Homo sapiens: one gene and its partner. The protein of the gene in region 1 interacts with the protein of each later gene in a pairwise test. Each region holds a gene or a part of one and is shown in the gene's direction. Other genes may lie near its edges. The genes, in order: KCTD15 and PEX26.

Region 1 (12,438 bases):
CTGGGTGCTGGGTTTGATGCTGGTGCTGGTGGAATGAACTTGTATCTCTCACTGCACCCACTTTTGTGCTTCTGACTTAAGCAGTGGTCTCGGAAAGAGGGTCGTGGTCCCGCACGGATGCGCTTGTTGGGAGAAACCTTGGAGATTCACGGCAAGGCGTAAAGCCTGGGGCTTCCAACGGTAAGTTTCTGGCTTGCCATGAACATCAGGTTGTTCTTGGGAGGGAAAAGGGGCTAAGAACAGAGTGGAGCGGCTTCTGTGATGGAGGCTTGGTGTTCACGTCACTTTGGAATAGTGTCCTGGTATTGGGGAAAACATCTTGCAGTCCGCTTTGATAGAATTTCAGCCAGAATTCCTTCCTGTTCAGTTTATCCTCAGCGCGTCTTCCCTTCTGACTCCTCCCCCAGCAGAGCCTCCTAGGGCAGGATAATCCATTCCTGAGGTCTGTTTTGGTTCTCAGAACTCCTTGAGCTAAGTGACCTGGTTTTGTTTTTTTAAGCTTGTAGAACTCAGGAATGCCAAAAGCAGTGGATTCTGAGTCCACAGGCCCCAGTGAGGGTATATATTAAACATCACTGTCTGCCCATTGCAACCTCCCACCCCAGTTTTATGTCAGGAAACTTGCCCGGGCACTCAGGGAGAGCAACCTTGCTTACATTTGCAGGATTTGATTCTGGTTGGATTAAAATTGGATATTGAATTTCAAGGCACAAATTTTGATCCCAGAGTTTTAATGGGAAAAAGCAATCCCATGGGTCCCAAGAATTTCAAGTGGTTTCTCTCTTAAAGGTTAAACCTTCGAGAGACGTCCAGGGTAGGTTTGTGGAAGCCAGTGTCTGTGGATGTGTGAAGGGGGGTGACTATTCACGTGCAAATCTCCTCTTTCCTCCCTTTTGAGACAGCTGTAAATCAGTGAACGGGGCTGCAGAATTCTGCCCCTCCTGCATAGGGCCTGCAAAGCGCCCCTGGGTGTGGCTTCCAGGGACTGAGGGACAATCTTATTTCAGGTGACTACGGCACAGAGGAGAGTTACTGAGTGCCTCTGGGGAGGAGCAGTAGAAAGGGTCCATTGGCTGATCTGCTTGCTCTGTGCTTCCTCCTGGCCACCTGGCCATCTCCTGATGCCTCGGGGGTATGTGATCCTGAGGGGTCTGGAATGCATTAGGCATAGACAACACCACTCTGGGAGTCTGGGGAGAAACTGTGAGGTACAGACTAGGCAAACAAAGACAGGTTTTCTCTGCTATTGGGAGCCACAGAGAAGAGGCGGCTTCCCAAGTGACTTGCCCTCATCCATGTGCCTGGACTTCTGCTGAACGGCTTCCCTGTGTCTGGCCAGATGCAAGCTGTATCTTATCACCATGGGGATGGTATTAAGAGAGGTCCTAGGTTCCCTGGCCCATGGAGGGTGAGGGGTGCTTTCTGAGCCTTGGTCCACAAGGCTGTTGCAAGAGGAGACACGCTTGGTAACATGGCTTGAAAGGAAAATACCAGGAAAATCTGGTTTGTTCTGAAATATTTTGGGGCAATAATGGTGAGCATATGTTTCAGTGCTGTCATTAGCCGAATTAGCAGACATGGAGCTGCCCAGAAAACACATGTGTGAGTGTGACTGTGTGTGTGTGCATGTATGTGTGTGTCATCTGCTACAGCCTGGAGGCCTGCTTTGGGGTGTGGAGACAGATAGAGAGATAGTGGCGGTGGAGTCAATCAGGGAGGGCTGCATGGACCTCGCAGGGTCTCAGAGAGCATGCAGAAAGGACAATTCTAAGTGTCTTTGACCCCATGGTACATGACTAGGAGGAATAAGCCTTCTCTGGTTTTGTCGATGCCTCCCGCAGATACTCTGGGCAGGGATGGAAGCCTAGATGCCTCACCGCAAGGAGCGGCCGAGCGGGTCCTCGCTTCACACACACGGCAGCACCGGCACCGCGGTGAGCCTGCAGGGTGGGCTGGGTCCCTGCCGGGAGTTCCCTCTTTCCCTTCTTCCCCAGTGCCTGTTTACTGGCTGTCCTTCCTTGGGACCATGACACTCCAGGTGGCTGTTGACTGGCTGTAGGATTATGTATTTTTGAAACAAAAATGCTCTTAATTTGATGTGAAATTTACTACATGTATAAAACTCAACGCCTTAGGTGCTGAGGAAGTCACTAATTTAGAGGTGTCTCGTTACTGAGACAAACTTGCAAAAAACCCCTGAATCCCAATTCACAAATTGGTGATTCGTTTGTCAGGGGATATTTCACATCTAACACATAAGCCCACGACCTTTAATTAGAATTTTGCAGTTTGTTTTATGCCCCTGGAGGCTGACACCTTGAAAAATTTTTTTTCTTGATTTCTTATTGCTAATAAGCATCTTTCTTTTTCCCTCTGGTACTTTGAAGAAAATGATGCAAATACACTTAATTACAGTGGTGGCCATAATTTGTCAGCTGAATATATGATCAGGCACGGGCAGAAGTGATCTGATTAGATCTGTGATCACACTCTCAATAAAGGGAGTGCATGGCTGTGTTGTGGAGAAACTCTTGTGTTCCGCTTTGAAACTCTTGTGTTCCGCTTTGTTTCCATCTCTAGGAGGGAGGAAACATGTCCCGGCTGTCTCTCACCCGGTCGCCTGTGTCTCCCCTGGCTGCCCAGGGCATCCCCCTGCCAGCCCAGCTCACCAAGTCCAATGCACCTGTGCACATCGATGTGGGCGGCCACATGTACACCAGCAGCCTGGCCACGCTCACCAAGTACCCTGACTCCAGGTAAGAGTAAGCCCCTTGAAACATCAGGCATGTGTGGGTCAGGGCAGCATCTGTAATCTGCTGCCTAGGGGGTGGGGTCTCTCCCCACTGTCACTCCACCCACCAGGGTCTCCAGGGTGCACAAGCTGACACAGCCTGAGGGAGCTAGGGTTGGGGAGTCCAAGTCTGCCTGTTGAAAGCTGCTATGCACAGAGGCTTGTGACCCTGACTTGGCGGCATTGGTAGTGCAAGGTGGAGCTCCTGACCCACCTGCAGGGGACTAGGGCTTATTCAGAGCCAGCCCAGCCTGAGCCTGCCGGCAGCGGGCAGGGGAGTCTCACGTACCTTCAAGGTTCCTCTGGAGGGAGACTTAGGCCCGGCCCCTGCAGGGGGTCATTTGTGAGTGATACTGAGTAGGTAAGTCTTGGGGGCATGGGGGTGGGTATTTAATCCTATTTTCTATTCCACCCCTGGGAAATTCACAAGGGGAGGGAAGAGGAGCTGTGGTGAGCTGCAGTGTGCCATCTTTGTCATTTTCCGTGGCCACTGCTGGGCCCTAGAGGCTAGCAGCAGGCTTCCCTTGGAGCTGGTGCTGCAGTGACTAGCTAGGAATGAATCACATACCTCATCAGTGGATAAAGGGTCTCTGGCCAGGACCCTGGTTGGGGGCTCACAGGCACCCTCCATGCTGCTGAACTTATAGGCTGCCCAGGCCCTTGGGCCTGCGAGAGGTTTGGGGTGCTGGGTGCTGCCAGCTCTCCTGCTCTTCCTTGCAGGGTGTTTCTCTCCTGGGTGAGGGACCTGCTTTCCCCGTTGGCACGGCAGCAGGGCTGACCCGAGTAGGGTGGGTCTTGAGCAGCTTGCTCAGCCGAGGATGTTTGCTCCTGGCACAGAGAGGCGGTCATCGCTCCCCTGGGGCTGCTGAAGGCTGAGCGTGGGAGGGCCAAGGCTGTGGGCATCACCCCTGTGTTATGCATTTGAAATAACAGGAGGAGTTAATTAATCCCCCAGATACTGAGGGATCATCTCTGGGGAGCATACACGGCAGGCTGCATTGTCACCGGTGTGGTTCCTCAGAGCAGGGAGGATGGTAGTGCGCAGAGGTGGCTTTCCAAGCCTGTTGGGGCTGCAGGGGAGCCTGTGCAGGTGCAGGCATGGTCCCTTGAGGAGGAAAAACTGGAAATGGGTGCAGTGTCTAGTTCCAAATTTGGAGAGTCTAGGGTACAGATGGTGACTGGTGTTCCAGTACCCCAGGTGGACAGAGACTCAGCCTGGGGCCCTGTGGCCTTGGGGCTTGTGGGGTGGGGACAAGAGCCACGGGGCCAGGTCAGCAGTGTTGGCCTGTGTGCTCACTCACAGAGCCCTGTCTAGGATGGGAGATAGATTCTGCTTATTTAATTTCCATTTTGCCTTCTGCGGCATTTCTGAGTTGTTTGAGATAGATCATCCCTTAATCGGTTGACGACGTTTGTGAGTGAAATTCATAAAACCTTTGCCCACAACCCTCTCTGAAGAGTTTCCTGAAATCAGAGAGTTGCCTGTCTGGAGTAATCACAGCCCAGGCCCTGGGGGAGGCGGGTGGGAGAGGCTTCTCATTCTGGGCTCTTGGCTGCTGCCTGAGAGCAGGAGGGCAGGGGGCCATCTCCCCCCACCCAGCCCCACTGTGCTGCTCACCCATTGCTTTGTTCTGCTGTGGGATGTGCTCTCATGGGGAGCTAGGGCCCCTGTGGCCCTGTGATCTGGCACTTGGGACCCTCCTGGTGTGCCCAAGGGGTGGCAGTCTATGTTTATTCTTCCCCAGGGCTGGGGCTCAAGGTGAATCTGTTGTTCTGCCTGGATGGCCTCTGGCTGCTGTGGGGGTGCTCTGTAGGCCTGAAGCTTTGGACTAGAGGCCAGGGATGGCTGACCTGCAGGACAATCAGGGGACAGGAGGCCAGGGGGCCTGAGAAGTGGGTCAGGCAGCTGTGCTGGCAAGAGCCCCTCAGATCTCTCTTGTCCTTCCTGTAGTGGATTATTATAATATAAGCAGTTTTCTACCAATTCTGGAAAAAATCAATCTCACCTAGTGTCACTGATCTAGGAGACACCTGGAGATGGAGGACTAAGAGTGCTGTGGTCCTCAGGGGGTTTCTGGATGGTGAAGATGACCTGCCCTAGGCAGCATTGTAAAAGCTGGGACCTCTACCCTCGGCTCCCCTGAGAACTCTGCCTGAGCCTCTGGGTCTCGGCGGTTGGGGTGGCCTGGGTGCTGGAGAGTCTCGTGCTGGGTGACTCCTCTGGTCTGCCTAGGAGCAGTCACTGGTCCTCACCCGAGACAGCCAAGCACAGCCGGGGCTGGGAGTGGATTCCCTGGGCCGGCCCCCTTGCTGGTGTCCTGCCTGCTTGACCCCCGTTAGCTGCCGCCATCACAGCCACACTCTGACATCCATCCTGACTATGGGAAGCATCAAATGAAGATGGCCAGGAGCTTCAGAACTCTTAAAACCTGGTGCCTGAAACAGCCAGGAAATTGGAGCCAGAGCTTAAAAAAAAAAAGGAAATAAACGAGAAGACGAAGGCCATCCTGATGCTCCCCCTTGTGCACACAGGGCAGGTGGTTGGAGGCATCTTTTCTGCCCCTGAGGGTCCCACCTGCTGCAGCGTGAACTGGCCACCTCATTCCATGGAGGACTTCGGAAGCCGGCCCCTCAAACCCTGCATCCTCTCTCAGAGGGTGGCCTGGGCCATTTTCCACAGGGAACGTGGAGCCCCTGACAGAGCTGGGAACTCATACCTGCAGGGCTGAGAATGGCTGAGGGCTCCTCCATGGTGATTATCCTCACCTTTCCTCAACCTGCTCACGTCCTTGGCAGCCTCAGACGCTGAGGGCATGAAAGGCCTCTGTCCTGGGAGAGGCGGTACAGCTGCCGCTTGATCCAGGAGCCTATACTGAACCATGGAAAGATCTAGAATCAGCCTGTCCTGAAATAAGGCAGATGGAAAACCTTCTAAACTTGGACCGATGAGACAACCTAGAACCCATCCAGCCCTGGAATGTGGGTGCATCAGGAGTCTTCTAGACCAACAGGACCAGCTAGAGCCTCAGCCAGACCTGACGTCAGAAGGGTTGGGAACTCAGCCAGGCCTAGAATGCTGCCTGCTTACATGGACTTTGGAGCTCCACTGGGAAGGGTGGGGAGAGTTCCCAGGAGGCTGAGGGTTTGGATCTGCTGACTCACCTTGGATGTAGCTCTTACTTCCCACCGGTGCCACACATGGACCTCAGCCACCTGCCAACCACTGCCCATGGTATCTGGCAGCCTGGGACAGACCCATCTGTCTCCAGGAATGCTGGGTGGCCCTCACTCTGACATCTGGATGCCCACGCTCTACTAGGCCAGGTCCTAGGGCCTTTGTAACTGGAGCCAGCCGTGGAACCCACAGCCTTTCCAGCAGGGGCTGTGACCTGCAGTGCCATTGTCACCAGGCCTAGGGGGTTGACAGGGCTCATCGGCCTTTGGAGCTCTGAGATGAGTTGTATCTGGGTGGCTGCAGCTCTGGGTCCACAGACTCGGGCTCACAGCAGACTCTGACCTCCCCATGCCCATCCACGAGACAGCCTTGCCCTTTTCTTTCTTTCTTTTAAGCGACAGCGTTTGTCTTTCTTGGCCAGGCTGGAGTACGTGGTGTGATCTCGGCTCATTGCAACCTCAAACGCATGGACTCAAGTGATCCTCCCACCTCAGCCTCCCAAGTGGACTACAAGTGCATGCCACCATACCCAGCTAATTTTTAAATTTTTTGTAGAGATGGGGTCTTGCTGCGTTGCCTAGGCTGGTCTCGAACCCCTGGCCTCAAGCAGTCCTCCACCTTAGCTTCCCAAAGTGCTGGGATTACAGGTGTGAGCCACGGTGCCCAGCTAAACCGTGCCCTTTATACTACCCTGCTAGGAGAGAAACCTGCACCGTGTTCCCAGAGACTCCATACCCGGGCAGACCATCATGGCTGATGCATTGAGTGTGCTGGGCCATCAGAGCATAGGATGGTGTGGACGGGAGGCCCTGAGGGCAGACTTGGGGGCTCTGACTCCCTCAGCTCCTGCCCAGCTAGTGTGTCCTGGGTGCAAGTGGCAGTGGGGCAGGGCCCTGGAGACGGCTGACTTGGAGTGGACAGAGGAGTGGGCTGCTGTTAGAACAGGGGGCATCCCTGCAGGGGTCCCTGCTGGTGCAGGCAGAGAGTGAGGGGCTTAGGCTCCAGATTGTGTGCAGGCCGGGCTGGGAAGCCTAGGTCCCAAGTTGGAGCTACTGTTCTCCCAGCTGTGCAGAGAAGCTGCCACCTTGGCAGGGTCCAGCTGGGCAGGAGTGTGGCCCTGCCTGCTGAAGGATGTGGTGGTGCTGCCCTTGGGGAAATGATGCCAACTTCCCTCCTGTTCCCAAACCAAGCCCTTGGCTACTCCCACCCCTCTTTAGGGTTCCTAGTTATCCCTAGCTCGACCTGGGGTCTGCCAGGGCAGTTGCCAAACCAGAGCTGGCCACCCTGGGCACTGGGGAGGTGGTATCAGCCCTGGCTCTGAGGCCTGGCTCCTTCTCCCCGGAGTGGACAGGGACAGGCATCAGGGGCTCCCCAAGACCCTTCTCCTGGTCTTGCATTTGTTAGAACCATTGCCCTTCAGAGGACAGGGTACCGGCACCTGCCTTCTCTCCAGTCCCCATCCGCCACCACTAGGTGTGGTGTGCATACGCTCTGGCATGTGTGCACATATGTATGCACTGTGGTGCATGTGTGTGCATGGTTTCTGTGTGCGTGTGTGTATGCCTGTGTTGTGGCATGTGTGCAAGGGCCCTGTTGCATGTGTGTGCTGTGGCACACTTGCCATCCCTCCTGTCTGCCTCTGTTTCTCCCTGTGGGCTCCCTGAGTGAGCGGCAGTAGGGGATTTGTGCCGTCATGTCTCTGGGTGCCTGGTGTTGACAGGTGTGTGTCCTTTCCTGGATGTGTCTGGATCTGCATGATATGTGTGTGTTGGGAAGGAAGGGACCATGTGACCCTGTGCCTGTTGCACAGGCCTGTGTGTCTCACACTCGTTTACATGGGTTGGGTGGGGAGGATGTATGTCCTGGCTCGTTTACTGGGTGTGTGGCTGTTGGCCGGGGTGTTGGATGGTTCATGTGCATTTTCTGGGTGGGTCTATCTGGCAAGGGTGTGTGCACCAGGCCTGTGACCAGCTGGTTTGTGTGTAGGGGGTAAGGTGCCTGTGTCTTGCTATACCTTTCCAGGCCTGTAACATAACGTGTGTTGGCAGGCTGGTGTGTACAGCTGGGTGTGTCCCTCTCTGGCTGTGACTTGCGGGTGTAGGCAGGATGTGTGGTGTGTCCTGTTAACTGTAGCCTGGCTGCCCCAGGTGTGTGCAGATGTTGTCAGGCCTGGAACAGTTCCAGAGTCACCCATGTCAGGTCCCTCGCCCCTCCAGCCGTGTGGGCCCTCAGGAGTGGGGGCGGGGTGTGGGAAGACAGGCAGACTTGTCCCCATCCCTTCAGACATCCCACCTCGCCTGTCTCTCCCAGGATAAGCCGCCTCTTCAATGGCACTGAACCCATCGTCCTGGACAGTTTGAAGCAACATTATTTCATTGACCGGGATGGGGAGATTTTCCGCTACGTCCTGAGCTTCCTGCGGACGTCCAAGCTGCTGCTTCCGGATGACTTTAAGGTAAGTCCATGGCTGGTGGCCCCCCTGCACTGCCTGTGTGATGGCATTACACAGGGGACGCTGTGACTTAATAAGTGGACCCCTGGTTGTCATGGTAACCATAAAAAGTTAAACGATGAAGCCGAGGGCTAAATCAGTTTTTCTAAACTAATTTTGTTTTCTCACATTTTTAGCTTATTTATCAGGGTATATAACAACAATCAAGCTGCAGAACGTATCCCAGCTGAACATTTGTCGTGTTTAAGGATGGGCGCGTGCCAGCGTTATAGTAGTTAGAGGTTCATAAATCTGTTCCATCGGCTGGGTGCAGTGGTTCATGCCTGTAATCCCAGCACTTTGGGAGGCCAAGGTGGGTGGATCACTTGAGGTCAGGAGTTCAAGACCAACTTGGCCAACTTGATGAAACCCCATCTCTACTGAAAATGCAAAAATTAGGCCTGGAGCGGTGGCTCACGCCTGTAATCCCAGCACTTTGGGAGGCCGAGGCGGGTGGATCACCAGGTCAGGAGTTTGAGACCAGCCTGGCCAAGATGGTGAAACACCGTCTCTGCTAAAAATAGAAAAATTAGCCAGGCGTGGTGGCAGGCCTGTAATCCCAGCTACTCGGGAGGCTGAGACAGGAGAACCACTTGAACCCAGGAGGCAGAGGTTACAGTGGGCCGAGATTGCGCCACTGCACTCTAGCCTGGGCGACAGAGCAAGACTCCGTCTCAAAAAAGAGAAAGAAAAGGACGGCTGTAATTAGACTTCAAAAAATAAAGTATAAAAAGAAAAATGCAAAAATTAGCCGGGCATGGTGACAGGTGCCTGTAATACCAGCCACTTGGGAAGCTGAGGCAGGAGAATCTCTTGAACCCAGGAGGTGGAGGCGGAGGTTGCAGTGAGCCGAGATCACGTCACTGCACTCCAGCCTGGATGACGGAGCAAGACTCTGTCTCAAAAAAAAAAAAAAATCTGTTCTGTGTTGGGCAATTTGCAGGGAGAAAAGCCCTGATGACCAAACAGATACCCTTTAAACAAAAGGTTAACCCCCAGGTCTCCGGGTGAGCCCGTCAGGGCAGGTGACCTGGTTCCCTGGGTCATGCCTCAGTGCTGAGCCCCTCCCACATGTCAGGGACTCTGGGAGGAAGGAAACTCAGGCCTGGGGTACACTGGCATGTATTAATACTAGCAAATGTCTGTCCTTCCTTCCTTCATTCCTTCCTCTATCCAGAGGACCAGTAGCCCTGGGGCCTTGTCTTTCATCCAGCTCAGTTACTGAGTGCCAGCCTCTGAATTCAGGCTGAAAACAGTGAAACACACACACTAGGACCTGCCCCACAACACTTAACAGTCTAGCGGGCAGACAGATACTGAACTTGAAGTCCATGTGACCTGGGCTGGGCGGGTTTGAAAGAAATGATGTTCATCTGGGTGGTGAAGGCAGAACGGGGCCAAACAGGTGTGAGGGCCTTGGTGCAGGGGATGGGGGTGGCAGATGGCTTGATGCATTCCAGAACTGGAAAGAAGGTGTCAAGCCTGGAGCTTTATGGACTGGGAGGGGAAGGTCAGGAAAGGAGGCTGCTGTTTGATGTCAGGACCTTGGTGGGTGGCCCAGTGCCTGGCATTTAACTCTGAATGCAGTGGAAGGGGTGTGTGCAGGGGAAGGGCAGTCAGATCTGCAAATTGGGAAGATCTCTCTGGCTGTTGGGTGGGGAAGAAGGCAGAGAGGGGTGGGGGTGGGTGCAGTGAGGCAATTATGGATGAGGCCCCTTCCCCAGGCCAAGGGAGGCTGGGTGGAGGCTTTGGATGGACCAGGATGGAGATAGAGAAGATGGAGCAAGGTGGCACATCAGACTTCTGTTTAGTACAGGCACAGTGGCTCACTTGGTCATCCCAGCACTTTGGGAGGCCGAATGGGGAGGATCCTTTGAGGCCTGGAGTTCAAGACCAGCCTGGACAACATAGCAAGATGCTGTCTATACAAATTTGTTTTTTAATTAAAAAAGGCCGGGTGCGGTGGCTCACACCTGTAATTCTAGCGCTTTGGGAGGCCGATTTAGGTGGATCACCTGAGGTCAGGAGTTCGAGACCAGCCTGACCAATATGGTGAAACCCCATCTCTCTTAAAAATACAAAAATGAGCCGGGCGTGGTGGTGTGCACCTGTAGTCCCAGCTACTCGGGAGACTGAGACAGGAGAATTGCTTGAACCCAGGAGGTGGATGTTGCAGTGAGCTGAGGTCACACCACTGCACTCCAGCCTGGGCAACAGAGCAAGGTTTCATAAGTAAATAAATAAACTTTACTTTTAAAGTTTTTTAAGAGTAATTTATTTACTTTTCATAAGTAAATAAATAAACAAGCAAGCAAGCTGCAAAAGCACGTGGCTGTGGTAGTGTAAAGGGCCTCTTGCAGGTGCCCCGGGACTTGTGGCTTGAATTCTGAGTTGGTAAGTTGAGGCCCGGGGTGGACCAGGCTGTGGGAGTGGGGTTTCTGCCCCTGCATGGGAGAGCTGGTGGGGCATCAGATGGAGAAATCCTGGGCCATGACAAAAGATGGGGTTGTCTGTCATGCAGTTGTCATTTAAAATCTCAGGAGAATGGCCAGGAGAGGTGGCTCACACCTGTAATCCCAGTGCTTTGGGAGGCCAAGCAGGAGGATCATTTGATCCCAGGAATTCCAGACCAGCCTGGACCTTGTGTCTACAAATAATTATTATTGTTATTATTATTATTATCCTGGCATGATGGCTCATGCCTGTAGTCTCAGCTGCTCGGGAGGCTGAGTCAGGAGGATCCCTTGAGCCTGGGAGTTCAAGGCTGCAGTGAGCTATGATCACATCACTGCACTCCAGTCTGGGCTACAGAATGAGACCCTGTCTAAAGAAAATAAAATAAAAATCTCAGGAGCAAGTGAGAGTGGAGAGAGCAGAGGCCCAGGATAGAGCCCTGAGGAGCCCTTGCATGGGGCAGGAGAGGCAGGATGGGCCACTGACCCATGACAGGCCCAGAGGTCAGGGTTAGAATCTAGGCCTCCCTCCAGGCGGCCAGCAGGTGGAAGGGACTTAGGGCCTGTAGGTCAGGGGGCTGGGCTTCCTTGCCTCTTCCTCAGGCATGAGTCATGGGGACCTATGGGACCTTGGCCATTCCCAGTGGGGTGGGTGTGTGTGAGCGTGTATAGTGTGCATATGTGGCCCAGGGCATGGGGCCAGTATCAGCGCCTGAGGGACAGTCTGTGCGAGGCTGCTTAGCCCAGAAGGGGGCTGCGTGGCAGGGGGCGGGCTTCCCCTCCCTGGACACTTTATCACACTCTGCCTGTTTGGGCAGGGGCTGGACCAGGCACTTGGCACATCTTGCATCCTTTGATCCTCACTTTCATTCTCTGAGCTGGTTGTTTATGTCCATTTTATACATAAGGGAACTGAGGCCGGGCGCAGTGGCTCACGCCTTGGGAGGCCGAGGCAGGTGGATCACATGAGGGCAGGAGTTCAAGACCAGCCTGGCCAACATGGGAAAACCCCATCTCTACTAAAAACATAAAAGTTAGCCGGGTGTGGTGGCAGGCACCTGTAGTCCCAGCTACTCGGGAGGCTGAGGCACGAGAATTGTGGAGTTTGCTGTGAGCCAAAATCGAGCCACTGCACTCCAGCCTGGGTGACAGAGAGAGTCTGTCTCAAAAAACAAAAACAAAAAAAAAAAACAAAAAAAAACGAAAAAAAAACCAAGAGGCTCAGTTAGTGAGGTATAGAGGTTTAGAGGTCTCAGGGCAGGTTGATGATGAAGCTGAAAATCTGACCCAGGCAGGCTTGGCTGGAGAAGAACTTTTTTTGCTTCCGGGTAGGCTGTGAGCTCCTAGGCCCGGCTGCCCTGTGCCCAGCATGATCTCTTCTCTCGGTGGGATTCTAAGGCAGCAGCAGGTCCCCAGGCATAGGCACAGCCTCGTCCTTTAGTGGAGCTTCCAGGTCTTTCCATGGGGAGGCTTCACTGCCCAGTGCCTGGGGCCAGATGGAAGGGCTCAGGGGGGCTGGCACAGGTGC
Region 2 (12,438 bases), on another chromosome or scaffold:
GAGGAATTGCTAGACTGGGCATGAGCCAGCCCCACCCATAAGGAGAGGCCAGTCCTGGAGTCTATGAGAGCAGCCAGGAGAAAGTCCACTTGGCCCTGCTGACTCCTGAACATGGACTGAGTCATAGTCCTCCACTTTTTCTAGGGCTGAACTCTGACTAGAACCTCAGAATTTAAAAAAACTTCCTCTTGGCCAGGCACGGTGGCTCACGCCTGTAATCCCAGCACTTTGGGAGGCCAAGGCAGGCAGATCACAAGGTCAGGAAATCGAGACCAGCCTGGCCAACATGGTAAAGCCCCATCTCTACTAAAGATACAAAAAAAATTAGCCAGGTGTAGTGGCACATGCCTGTAGTCCCAGCTACTTGGGAGGTTGAGGCAGGAGAATAGCTTGAACCCGGGAGGCGGAGGTTGCAGTGAGCCAAGATCGCACTGCTGCACTCCAGCCTGGGCAATAGAGCGAGACTCTGTCTCAAAACAAAAAACAAAAAACAAAAAAACTTCCGCTCATCAGAATATCTACAAAAGTGTTAATTCAAGTATTAATGTCTCATGAAGTGTTAATTCAAAGCAAGTTGTAAATGAAAAACTCATACATTTTAGAAAATGTGGAAAATAGGCCGGACATGGTGGCTCACACCTGTAATCCCAGCACTATGGGAGGCCAAGGAGGGTGGATCACCTGAGGTCAGGAGTTCGAGAACAGCCTGGCCAATATGGTGAAACCCCGTCTCTACTAAAAATACAAAAATTAGCCAGGTGTGGTGGTGCGTGCCTGTAATCCCAGCAACTGGGGAGGGTGAGGCAGGGAGCATTGCTTGAACCCAGGAGGCGGAGGTTGCAGTGAGCCAAGATTGCACTGTTGCCCTCTGGCCTGGGCTACAAGAGCGAAACTCTGTCTCAAAAAAGAAAAAAAAATGTGGAAAATAGAGAAAAGTATAAAGAAGGGCATAGAAATCTGCTACTCTGCTGTGCTTTCAGTCTTTTTCTATGGATATAGAGATTGTAGGCAGTTACATGTCACACATATGCTTTCAAGCATGGCCTTAAATCGCTAACTATTCCAGTTCACAGGAATGCCCCTAAGTAATTTAACAACCCCTATTATTGAACATTTGGGTGATTATTCTGTTTTCTGCCTCGCTGTGAAGAAGGAATGAGCTCCCTAAGTGATATTTGGGAACAACCCCAGTTATTTCCTGAGGATTGACCCCTCAGGTGCATGAAGCCAAACTTGGCACTCGCTCTTTTAGATTTTTTTGTGTTACTCAGTGTGAGTTATGTTCTAATCTCTACTCTTCTCATGAATTTAGACTTAGAATATGATTAAATAAGTTTCAAAATTTAAGAGGAAATCAGAAACCCTTATACTGGTCCCTTCAAATGGTTTGTCTATTTTGAGAAGTGCCATTTGTTAACTTAGTCTTTAGATTCTCCCTGTTTCCCCATTTCTCTTTCTCTTATTCAGTGAGCTTTTTTAAAATATTTATTTATTTATTTTTATTTTTATTTTATTTTATTTATTTAGTTTTTGATACTGGGTCTTTCTCTGTTGCCCAGGCTGGAGTGCACCGGCGTGATCTTGGCTCACTGCAACCTCTGCCTCCTAGGCTCAAGCGATCTTCTCTCCTCAGCCTCCCAAGTAACTGGGACTACAGGCATGTGCCTCCATGCCCGGCTAATTTTTTATTTTTATTTTTGAGACAGAGTCTTGCTCTGTTGCCCAGGTTGCAGTGGCGTGATCTCGGCTTACTGCAACCTCCGCCTCCTGGGTTCAAGCGATTCTCCTGCCTCAGTATCCCAAGTAGCTGGGATTACAGGCACACACCACCATGCCAGGCTACATTTTGTATTTTTAGTAGAGACGGGGTTTCGCCATGTTTGCCAGGCTGGTCTCCAACTTCTGGCCTTAAGTGATCCTCTCACCTCAGCCTCCCACAGTGCTGGGATTATAGGCACAAGCCATCATGCCTGGCCAGCGAGGTTTCCGTCACATAGCTCAGAGTTGTCCTTCTAACCCGTCTGCTGAATGCTGAGCAGGGATCCCCTGTGGACGACTCTGTTTGCTTTACAAAGAAGTCACGAGTTAGCGCTCGGAATGCTCAGTATCATCAGCGTTCATCCCTGGCCACCTCCTGACTGATACAGATTTAGAAACTCTTTATGATTCTTTATGGTTCCCGTAAGCCCTTTAGTCTCGTAAACCCTGGTCTCCTAGTGGGGATGGCATGAGGACATTTGAGCCTGCTCTTTCCAAGGCTGCTTCAGAAGGGCCTGGCCCAGTGGCCCTGACCCTCAGCAGCAGGCCCGACTCATTGGAGTGATGATGGTGGGGGAGGAGAACCTGCACCTGCAGGCTGAGGATCGCATGAGCCCCAGAGATTGAGGCTGCAGTGAGCTGAACACAGACTGCACTGTACTCTAGCCTAGGTGACAGAGCGAGACCCTGTCTCTAAAAAAAACAAAACAAAACCAACTATGTGTAATTGGTAGTGGAGTCTCCCAGGGTGGGAGATGGCAGAGTGACAGGTGAGAGGGGTGGGACGTTCACTGTAGTCTCCCTCTGCCCTGCAGCTTCCCCTTCCTCCCTGCACTTCCTCTACAAGCTGGCCCAGCTCTTCCGCTGGATCCGGAAGGCTGCATTTTCTCGCCTCTACCAGCTCCGCATCCGTGACTGAGGGTCCCTGCGCACCACAGCCTCTCTGCTCCTCACGTCCGTGGCCACAGAAGCAGAGCGACAGAGCGACACATCCACAGGCGCCCCTGGGGAAATGGGACCAGCCTAATCTCGCGGAGTGCACTGTGTCTTGCTGCCTGGGTGCCCTCTCCTTTGCACCCTACTTCGGCTGGTCGCGGTAGATGATGTGGAAACAAAGCAGGACCAGCAGGCACAGCACCTCCAGAACAGTGCCCCGGATGACCAGAGGCCCCTTGAAAAGGAGGGGTTTGGGGACAGGGACTGTGTCCATGAAACATTCCATCTTCTTGGTGAAGGCAAGGGGTTGGTTCTTCAGGTCAGGATGTTAATGGAGCTGGAAGTTCAGAAAAAGCCTGGTGAAGTGACCCTTGGCCTTTCACTTCTTGAGAAACATACTTCTTTGCTGGGCATGGTGACTCACGCCTGTAATCCCAGCACTTTGGAAGGGTGAGGTGGGTGGATCACTTGTGGCCAGGAGTTCAAAACCTGCCTGGCCAACATGGTGAAACCCCATCTCTACTAAAAATACAAAAATTAGCTAGATGTGGTGCACGCCTATAGTCCTAGCTACTTGGGAGGCTGAGGCAGGAGAATCACTTGAGCCAGGGAGGCAAAAGTTGCAGTGAGCTGAGATTGTGCTACCGCACTCTCTCAAAACAAACAAAAAAACATGCCCCACAGGACAGTACCTTAATTAGCTAGAGTAGATCTGAGAGGGCCTCTTCTTGCCTGCACTGTGCTCCCCAGAGCTGATCTAATTCTGTATCAATAGGCTGTTCCCATGGTCTTGCCATGCGCTTGAAGCTGCAGGAGCCTTCTCACTGTTCAGGCTGGGGTGTGGTTTTCAGAACCACCGGGTTGACTACTGAAAACCAAGTGAGCCTTACAGCTCTTATCGCTGGGTAAAGTGATCTTGCCTGGTGCCTCTTGGTCTTCAGCTCAATTTTCCAGGTTGTCCTGGCCAAGTCTTGCTCTGTTACGCTCAGTGCCTCTGCCCACTCTTTCCCCGCCAGCCCTTCCCTCCCGCCCTGCAAACTTGTCCCTTGGCTGTTTCACCAGGTTCTGCCTGTATCCTTGCCTCCTTGGTACACACCATTTCAGGTTCTTCCCTTTCTGTGTCCCATTGTCCTAGTTATGTTCTGTTGTTTGTGTAATGCCCAAATTTTTCTGCTCGTGTGGCCTTGAAAAGTAGGCCAGCCTCAGAGGCTGCTGAGCTGAAAATGGAACTGAGTAATCAGGTGAGCTGGAAGGGATGTGGGGGGCGGGGCAGACGGGAGACATGGGTTTTGAAGGCAGTGAACAATAAAACCTTAGGGAGGTGGCACCGAGGCCTTAGCATTTGAGGAGCTGAAATGTTTCAGTGTTGTTTTCTCACCAGCCACAAGCATCTTATGAGTTTCTGTGCAAGGAAGCGTAGAGCACTGCTGTGCTGTCAGGATGAAGAAGGGCTTTCTGCAGGGGCTGGCCTTTCTCTACCCAGAGGCCAAGCAGGCTGCCCTGCACTGTGTCCTTGGTGTTGATGCCCAAAATAGAGAAGGTGCTTGCTAGCTTTTCCTTGGTACATTTTCGGGGGTTGCAAGGCAACAAGTTTTCTTTTGTTTTGTTTGTTTGTTTGTTTGTTTGTTTTTGAGATGGAGTCTCTGTCACCCAGGCTGGAGTGCAGTGGCGTGATCTCAGCTCACTGCAAGCTCCGCCTCCCGGGTTCATGCCATTCTCCTGCCTCAGCCTCCCGAGTAGCTGGGACTACAGGTGCCCACCACCTCGCCTGGCTAATATTTTTGTATTTTTAGTAGAGTCTGGGTTTCACTGTGTTAGCCGGGATGGTCTCGATCTCCTGAACTTGTGATCCACCCACCTAGGCCTCCCAAAGTGCTGGGATTACAGGTGTGAGCCATCGCGCCCGGCCAACTTTTCTTTAGAAAAATGAGTAAAGTAGGTAAACTTCACAGGCCCCTTAGAATTAAATCCTTAGGGCATGGTTCAAGTCTGTAGGAAGCAAATCTATACTTTTTTATATGGGCTTTTAAGTAAAGCTTAGAACCCTGGGGGGAGAAAAGCAGTCAGGTGAGGTTTGAGATTCCTTCTATAGAATGATTTCTTAAAATGAAAATCTGGGCCCACTTAACTACCCTAGATAAAACGCTTCAATGGCTTCCCATGGCTCACTGGATAACATCTAAATTCTTCATGGAATTGAAGGCCCCTATGTGCTGGTTTTGGCTAAGATCTCCCCTTTGATGTGGGTCCCCTGTTGATTATATGTGCGGCCTTCCAGCTGCCCACCATCACAGCTACAGCTCGCTCCCCTTGGCCTCTGTGCCTTGGCTCGCACTGTTCCTACTGAAGGCCTAGCACCTGCTCTTGGCCTGGTGAGCCCCTCCACCTTCCAGGCTTACTCAAAGAATTCTTTCTGCCCCTCCCTGTGTCCCGGGACCTGTTTCATATCGCTTCTGTGGTCGTGACCCCATGGTCTTGTAATTGTGAACTTCTTTGCTGCCCCTTCGAAGCTGGGGAGTGCTTGTTGCAGATGCATCCAAGAGGGGTAATTGCGTATCAACAGTGGATTTGCTGGTTGTTTCTACAGGGTTCTGAAGCATGCAACATAGAACAGATACCTTTAAATTTAGGGGCGCTAAGGAAAGCAGGAACCAGTAATCCTCTTCTGTGGTGGGATGGGAGGGTGGGGGAGAGGGGTGGAATGGAGAGGAAACAGGCTATTGTTGGCCAGCCCTGGGTGGAGGTGGGTGCAAGCAGGACAGATAGTGCCTGGGGGTGGGGGCGGAGGGTTCGCCTCTAGGAAGGGGCTAGAAGGGATGAGGAAATAGTTCATAGCTTCGTGCAGGTGATCCCTATTCTGCGTGTATGTGTTTGCACATGAGTGTTTGTAGACCATAGACCATTAAAAAATACGGAATTCAAAAGTTACAAAAAGGGTATTCTTGGAAAAGAAAGTTGTTTTTTTTTAGTCTTGCTGTGTTGCCCAGGCTGGACCTGAACTCCTGGGCTTGAGCAAGTCTTCCCCTCAGCCTCTGGAGTAGCTGGGCCTACAGTGTGTGCTGCCACACCCAGCTAATACAGTCTTTCTACTCCCGCTCTCTATTCCCCAGTTTCTTGCCCAGAGGCAACCCTTGCCAGTCTGTTTATCCCTCCAGATACAGTCTCTGATAGTAAACTTTTCTTTCTCTTACACAAATGATAGTAGTCACATACACTACACACACTGTGCCACGTTTAAAAAGAAAAAAAACAATTCTCGGCTGGGCGCGGTGGCGCATGCCTGTAATCCCAGCACTTTGGGAGGCCAAGGTGGGTGAATCACCTGAAGTCAGGAGTTCGAGATCAGCATGGCCAACATGGTGAAACCCCATCTCTACTAAAAATACAAAAAAAAAATGAGCCGGGCATGGTGGTGGGTACCTGTAATCCCAGCTACTCAGGAGGCTGAGGCAGGAGAATCACTTGAACCCGGGAGGCAAGGGTTGCAGTGAGCTGAGATCGCGCCATTGCACTCCCACCTGGGCAACAAAGAGTGAAACTTGGTCTCAGAAACGAAACAAAACACAAAAACCTTTCTCAGTCCCAGCATATGTGGAGCAGCCTCATTCTTCATAGCTGTGTGTCATTCCGTTGCGTGATGGGGTCACAGAGCACAGACCTGGTGCCCTTTTCCTTTTTAATATGTGGAAACCCCTCCATGCTTTCCAAAGCCTACAAGTACAGCAGCCCCAAGTTTAGGGTGAGCAGCAGTGGTCAGAGCTCTTTACTATTACTTTTGGGCAAACGCAAGCCAGGCTGGCAACCACCACTGCCGCCGAGGGGAGATACAAGCAGGCCAGTTCACACTCTGGACGTTCAGTTTCTTTCTACATCTAGAAGGTGGCCTCTGCTATCCACTTAAAGCAGCCCAAGGAACTGTCAGAAAGCGAAAGTGATGACATGAACCGCGAGTAGGGCACCTCCCTGTGCCGTCGTCTGCTTTCCTTCCTCCCTCCCAGCCTCCCTGTGCCGTCCTCTGCTTTCCTCCCTCCCAGCACGGAAAAGCCGTGGGGCCGATGGACTTTGGCCTCACATCCACAGATGGGGCCTGTGGGAATTCTACTGATTTACTCTCTGGCCTAGTCAAGCAACCCACCCACGGCCTGGCCAAGGTCGGCCTCACCGCCCTGGCCTAGCACCTTTGGAAACTGAATACATGGAGTGTTAACCAGAAAAATGTCTGGCCCTTTTGCCTCGCTGCCTCTGGAAACCTCAGTGTTTCGGGCTGGTAGGAAGCTACAGGACAGACAGTGGGCACGGTGCCTAGCAGCCTGTCGCGCCCCCGCCCGCCTCTGCATTCCTCCAGCGGTGGTGTACGGATCCAGACATTGTTTGCCACCTCTAGGCCTCTTGATAAAACAGCAAGTATTTTTCTTGTCTTAAAGCAATGCATGTATATTTTAGAAAATATTAATTGCATAGAAGGAAATACAGGACTCGTGATCCCACCACTCAGAAATAATTACTATTAATACGGTTGATTTTCTTTCAGCTTTTTTCCCCCTAATTAATTAACTAATTCTTTTTTTTCCTGCAACTCCTGCTTCACAGACTTTTTTTTTTTTTTTAACTTGGCATGGTGGCTCACACCTATAATCCCAGCACTTTGGGAGGCCAGAGTGGGAGGATTGCTTGAGCCTAGGAGTTCAAAGCTAGCCTGGGCAACCTAGTGGGACCCCATTTCTTTTTTTTGGGGGGGGGGTGGGTTATAAAAGCCCTTTTATAAAGCCAATTTTAAACAAGAAAAAAACAAAAAGTTTACAAAAGAAAAAAAGATACAGAAAAAGAATAACTTGCTTCATATGTCCCAAAAAGAGAAAAAAATAAACGGGACAATGCCAACATGCTCAACAATAAAGGGTTCTTTTTCTTACTTTTTTAATACAAAATACAAGCAAAGGATACACATACTTAAAACAGAGCTCAGGAGCAGACACGCAGTCCTGGGAACCCTTCAATAAGAGCAAAGCAGGAGTTTGTTTTTTCTTTGTGCAGATACATACAGAGACTGGGATATGTAAAAATTAAGTATCACAAAAGACCATCACACGATTCTACCAATGCATGTTGCATCTATAATTCACGAACATGGTCAACAAGATCATGTTCACTTCAACCCCATTTCATTTAAATTAAAGAAAAAAACCTGGCCGGGCGCGGTGGCTCACGCCTGTAATCCCAGCACCTTGGGAAGCCGAGGCAGGTGGATCACGAGGTCAGGAGATCGAGACCATCCTGGCTAACACGGTGAAATCCCATCTCTACTAAAAAAATACAAAAAATTAGCCGGGCGTGGTGGCGGGTGCCTGTAGCCCCAGCTACTCGGGAGGCTGAGGCAGAAGAATGGCGTGAACCCAGGAGGCGGAGCTTGCAGTGAGCCTAGATGGCGCCACTGCACTCCAGCCTGGGGGACAGAGCAAGACTCCGTCTTAAAAAAAAAAAAAACAAAAATAAACCTTTTAAATAAAGTGGTTACATTCTAACTTTAACTTCCTTAGTACCATGCTGCAGGTTTCAGCACTGTTAAGGTATTGCAAGAATGCCCAACCCTCTGGTGTCTGATTGTGTATCTAGCAACATTGCAGTATGAAGAAAAGAGATGCCCCGGGTACGACCCCATTTCTATTAAAAATAAATGTAAACACCCAACCCTCTTGGCAGCCCATGCACTTGAGAACCTGTAGAAAATGGCAGTGTGCAACCAGCATGGCTGCGAGCTCAGCGTCTTCACTAGAGAGAGTGGAGGTGGTTAGGAAAGGGCAGGCGGGAAGGGGCCATGTTGGCCGGACAACTGCAGGTGAAGATGGGATTGTGAAGTACAGTCCAAGGCCCACTCACCAAGGGCTGGATCCAAATATGTGGGGTTGGGATTCTGTGACCTACTTCCAATTTTAATATTGACCTGAGCTCATATTTAGCTCTACATGTTTCCCAGCTCGTATTTTCCAACAGCCCCTTTAAAACTTTTAGCATCCTCTTGTCACTTTTGTACTATCCAAGGTGGGACGGACAGGTGTCAGATAATAGCAGAGACTTGGTGAAGAAATGAAAGCACTTTTGTAGAAGAGTGTCATTTCAGAAAAAAGCCTTTTTTTTTTGAGATGGAGTCTCGCTCTGTCACCCAGGCTGGAATGCAGTGGCGTGATCTCAGCTCACTGCAAGCTCCGCCTCCTGGGTTCACACCATTCTCCTGCCTCAGCCTCCCGAGTGGCTGGGACTATAGGCGCCCGCCACCACGCCTGGCTAATTTTTTGGTATTTTTAGTAGAGACTGGGTTTCACCGTGTTAGCCAGGATGGTCTCGATCTCCTGACCTCGTGATCCGCCTCCCACAGTGCTGGGATTACAGGCGTGAGCCACGGCACCTGGAGAGAAAAAAGCTTCTTTAATGACGACCTCAACATAATTTACATGGAGAAGTTTCTTAGGTGGAAAACCGATTTGTATGGTCCTCAGAATGTAACCTACAGGTTCTTGCCCTCAGAAAAATGCATGCATACTTTTATGTTACAGGCTTATTTTCCAAATGCGGTAGAGGGCCATCCCTTCTTTGGCTTCTTGCCTTGTCTCTGACCCCACTGACTGCCCCTTTTCTGCCTCCATAGCTAGTTTCTTATTTTCCTTTGGCTTTTTTTTTCTTTTCTTTTCTTTTCTTCTTTTTTTTTTTGAGATGGAATCTTGCTCTTGTCACCTAGGCTGGAGTGCAGTGGTGCGATCTCGGCTCACTGCACCCTCCTCTTGGGTTCAAGCCAGCGAGGTAGATATTATCATTTTAGAGACAGCAAAACAGACTCAGAGGGGCTAATGTGCCCAGTGCCCCACCGCTTTTAAATGGTAGAGCTGGGATTTGAATCTAGGCATACAGGTACCAGGATTTCTGTTCTTATCTCCCCCATAGCACCTGGAATGAGGCCATCCATGTAAGAGGCCAAGTAATAAAGATTTGTTGAATGAACTTGGATTTTGGCCTTAGGAATTAGGGAAGGAAGAAATAGAAGCAGCAAGAGTTGGTGAGCAATAAGACCCGCACCAGGGCTGAAGGGTGGAGGTGGGGCAGGGGAGGGCTCTGTGCTTTGGCATCTGTTTAGTAGTATCGTCGCCCAGCTCCCTCCAGAGAAAGAGCAGGAGGTGTTCTTCTCAGATGTACCAGCAATGACAAAGCCTGGCGGGTGTCCTCCTGGGTAGGTATAAATACAAGCTGGTAGTTTCATTGGATGACTCACACAGATAAGCCATGCTCTTGGTTACCAGTGGACTTAGCTGGGTCTCAAAGAATGGGCTGCTTTCTCTGGAAAGCTGGGGAGCTGGTAAAATTTTTTGGTCGCCCCACCAGAGACATCCTACCCATTCCCAGTCCCTCTGTGGGCTCTGACATCTCTGTCCGGCGGGCACCCCCTGCTCTGGAACATTCTGGGAATGCTTCCCACTCCCCTTTTAGTACTTGTTTGTGTTCTGTCCTGTTCCTGGATTTCATGGTCTCCATGGTGACAAGTGCTTGTTTTCAGAGGTGCTAAAGACAATGGCTAAAAGATGTGCTCTATTAATCCTCCCAGGAAACATATTTTGCAAAAGCCTTTTTTTTTTTTTTTTTGAGAAACAAGGCCTAACCCCAATGGAGTAATTTGCTGCGTAAATGAGAGACATCATGGGATTGTGGTTAAGAGTGTGGGTCCCAGACCCATAATGCCCAAGTTTGTATCTTTTTTTTTTGAGACAGAGTCTCACTCTGTCGTCCAAGCTGGAGGGCAGTGGCATGATCTCGACACACTGCAACATCCACTTCCTAGGTTCAAGCGATTCTCTTGCCTCAGCCTTCCGAGTAGCTGGAACTACAGGCACACACTACCACGCCTGGCTAATTTTTGAATTTTTAGTAGAGACGGGGTTTTACCATGTTGGCCAGGCTGGTCTTGAACTCTTGACCTCAAGTGATCTGCATGCCTCACCTCCCAAAGTGTTGGGAATACAGGCATGAGCCACCACACCCGGCCTGAGTTTGTATCTTGACTCACCTGCTTTGACCTTCAAATAATCTTTCCTGTGCCTCAGTTACTTCATAGGTTTGTTGTGAGGATTAACTGGTGCTAATCCATGTAAAACACTGAAAAGGTGCATAGCATGTAGTGAGCAGGTGCTAGTTATTATTACTGTTGCTCTTAATTAAGTGAGGTAAGGAGGGGAGAGTTGGAGTGGTAGAACCCAGCATCTTGTGAACATCAGACCACAGAAAAGGCAGCACTTCTGATTCCTGTTCTTAGCCTAGGAACTAGGCTTTGCAAATGGCTCTGAATTTTTTTTTTTTTTTTGAGATGGAGTCTCGCTCTGTCGCCCAGGCTGGAGTGCAGTGGCACGATCTCAGCTCACTGCAAGCTCTGCCTCCCAGGTTCATGCCATTCTTCTGCCTCAGCCTCCCGAATAGCTGGGACTACAGGCGCCCGCCACCACACCCGGCTAATTTTTTGTATTTTTAGTAGAGATGGGGTTTCACCGTGTTAGCCAGGATGGTCTCGATCTCCTGACCTTGTGATCTGCCCACCTCGGCCTCCCAAAGTGCTGGGATTACAGGCGTGAGCCACCACGCCCGGCCGGCTCTGATTTCTTAAAGTGCTAAGCCTTTTTATATATTCATTTCAGACCATGTTTAATTTTCTAAATATGCAATACATTCATAGGGTTTTTGAAAAGGCTTGAAAAAGTCTAGTGTGAAAGCAGTCTGTATTAGTCCATTTTCACACTGCTTTAGAGAAGTATCAGAGACTGGGTAATTGTTGAAGAAAAGAGGTTTAACTGACTCACAGTTCTGCATGGCTGTGAGGCCTCAGGAAACAAGCAGTCATAGTGGAAGGCAAAGGGGAAGCAAGGCACATCTTACATGGCAGCAGCAGAGAGAATGAGGGGGGATGCCACACTTTAAAACCATCAGAACTCGTGAGAACTGACTCACTATCACAAGAACAACAGGGGAGAAACTGTTCCTGTGATCCAGTCACCTCCCACCAGGTCCCTCCTCCGACGTGGGGATTACAGTTTGAGATGAGATTTGAGTGGGGACACAGAGCCAAACCATATCACCTCCCATCTCTTCATTTAGCAAGTTCACCTACCCCAATGGCAGCTATGGCCGTTAGTTTTTTTTTTTTTTCTTTTTTTTGAGACAGAGCCTCACTCTGTCGCCCAGGCTGGAGTGCAGGGGTGTGATCTCGGCTCACTGCAAGCTCCGCCTTCCGGGTTCACGCCATTCTCCTGCCTCAGCCTCCCAAGTGGCTGGGACTACAGGCTCCTGCCACCGCGCCCGGCTAATTTTTTGTATTTTTAGTAGAGACGGGGTCTCACCGTGTTAGCCAGGATGGTCTTGATCTCCTGACCTCGTGATCCACTTGCCTCGGTCTCCCAAAGTGCTGGGATTACAGGCATGAGCCACCGTGCCTGGCCACAGCCATTAGTTTTAAATTTACTCTTCCAGAGGTAAATTTAATACACCAATACAAAACCAGTATGGATATAGATCCTAGTTTCTTCTCCTTTTTATAAAAAAAACCTGTAGTATATTATGTACTCTGTTTTATTCCTTCCTTTTTTTTTCTTATAAAAAATACAGAGATGGGGTCTTACTACACTGACCAGGCTGGTGTTGAACTTGCCTCAAGTGATCCTCCCATCTTGACCTCCCAAAGTGCTGGGATTATAGGCATAAGCCACCACACCC

Evidence for each region.
Region 2: the proteins of KCTD15 (region 1) and PEX26 interact in binary tests that used the Homo sapiens proteins (3 or more experiments, as listed by UniProt).

What each region holds. Positions count from the first base shown.
Region 1 is NC_000019.10:33,798,587-33,811,024, forward strand, and holds part of KCTD15 (BTB/POZ domain-containing protein KCTD15), read left to right. Parts: intron 1-81; 5' UTR 82-84; coding exon of another isoform or gene 85-180; intron 181-1,007; coding exon of another isoform or gene 1,008-1,036; exon of another isoform or gene 1,037-1,132; intron 1,133-1,841; 5' UTR 1,842-1,868; coding exon 1,869-1,934; intron 1,935-2,580; coding exon 2,581-2,756; intron 2,757-8,272; exon of another isoform or gene 8,273-8,276; coding exon 8,277-8,421; intron 8,422-12,438. UniProt on the Homo sapiens protein: During embryonic development, it is involved in neural crest formation. Inhibits AP2 transcriptional activity by interaction with its activation domain.
Region 2 is NC_000022.11:18,085,399-18,097,836, forward strand, and holds part of PEX26 (peroxisome assembly protein 26), read left to right. Parts: intron 1-2,573; coding exon 2,574-2,677; 3' UTR 2,678-12,438. UniProt on the Homo sapiens protein: Peroxisomal docking factor that anchors PEX1 and PEX6 to peroxisome membranes. PEX26 is therefore required for the formation of the PEX1-PEX6 AAA ATPase complex, a complex that mediates the extraction of the PEX5 receptor from peroxisomal membrane.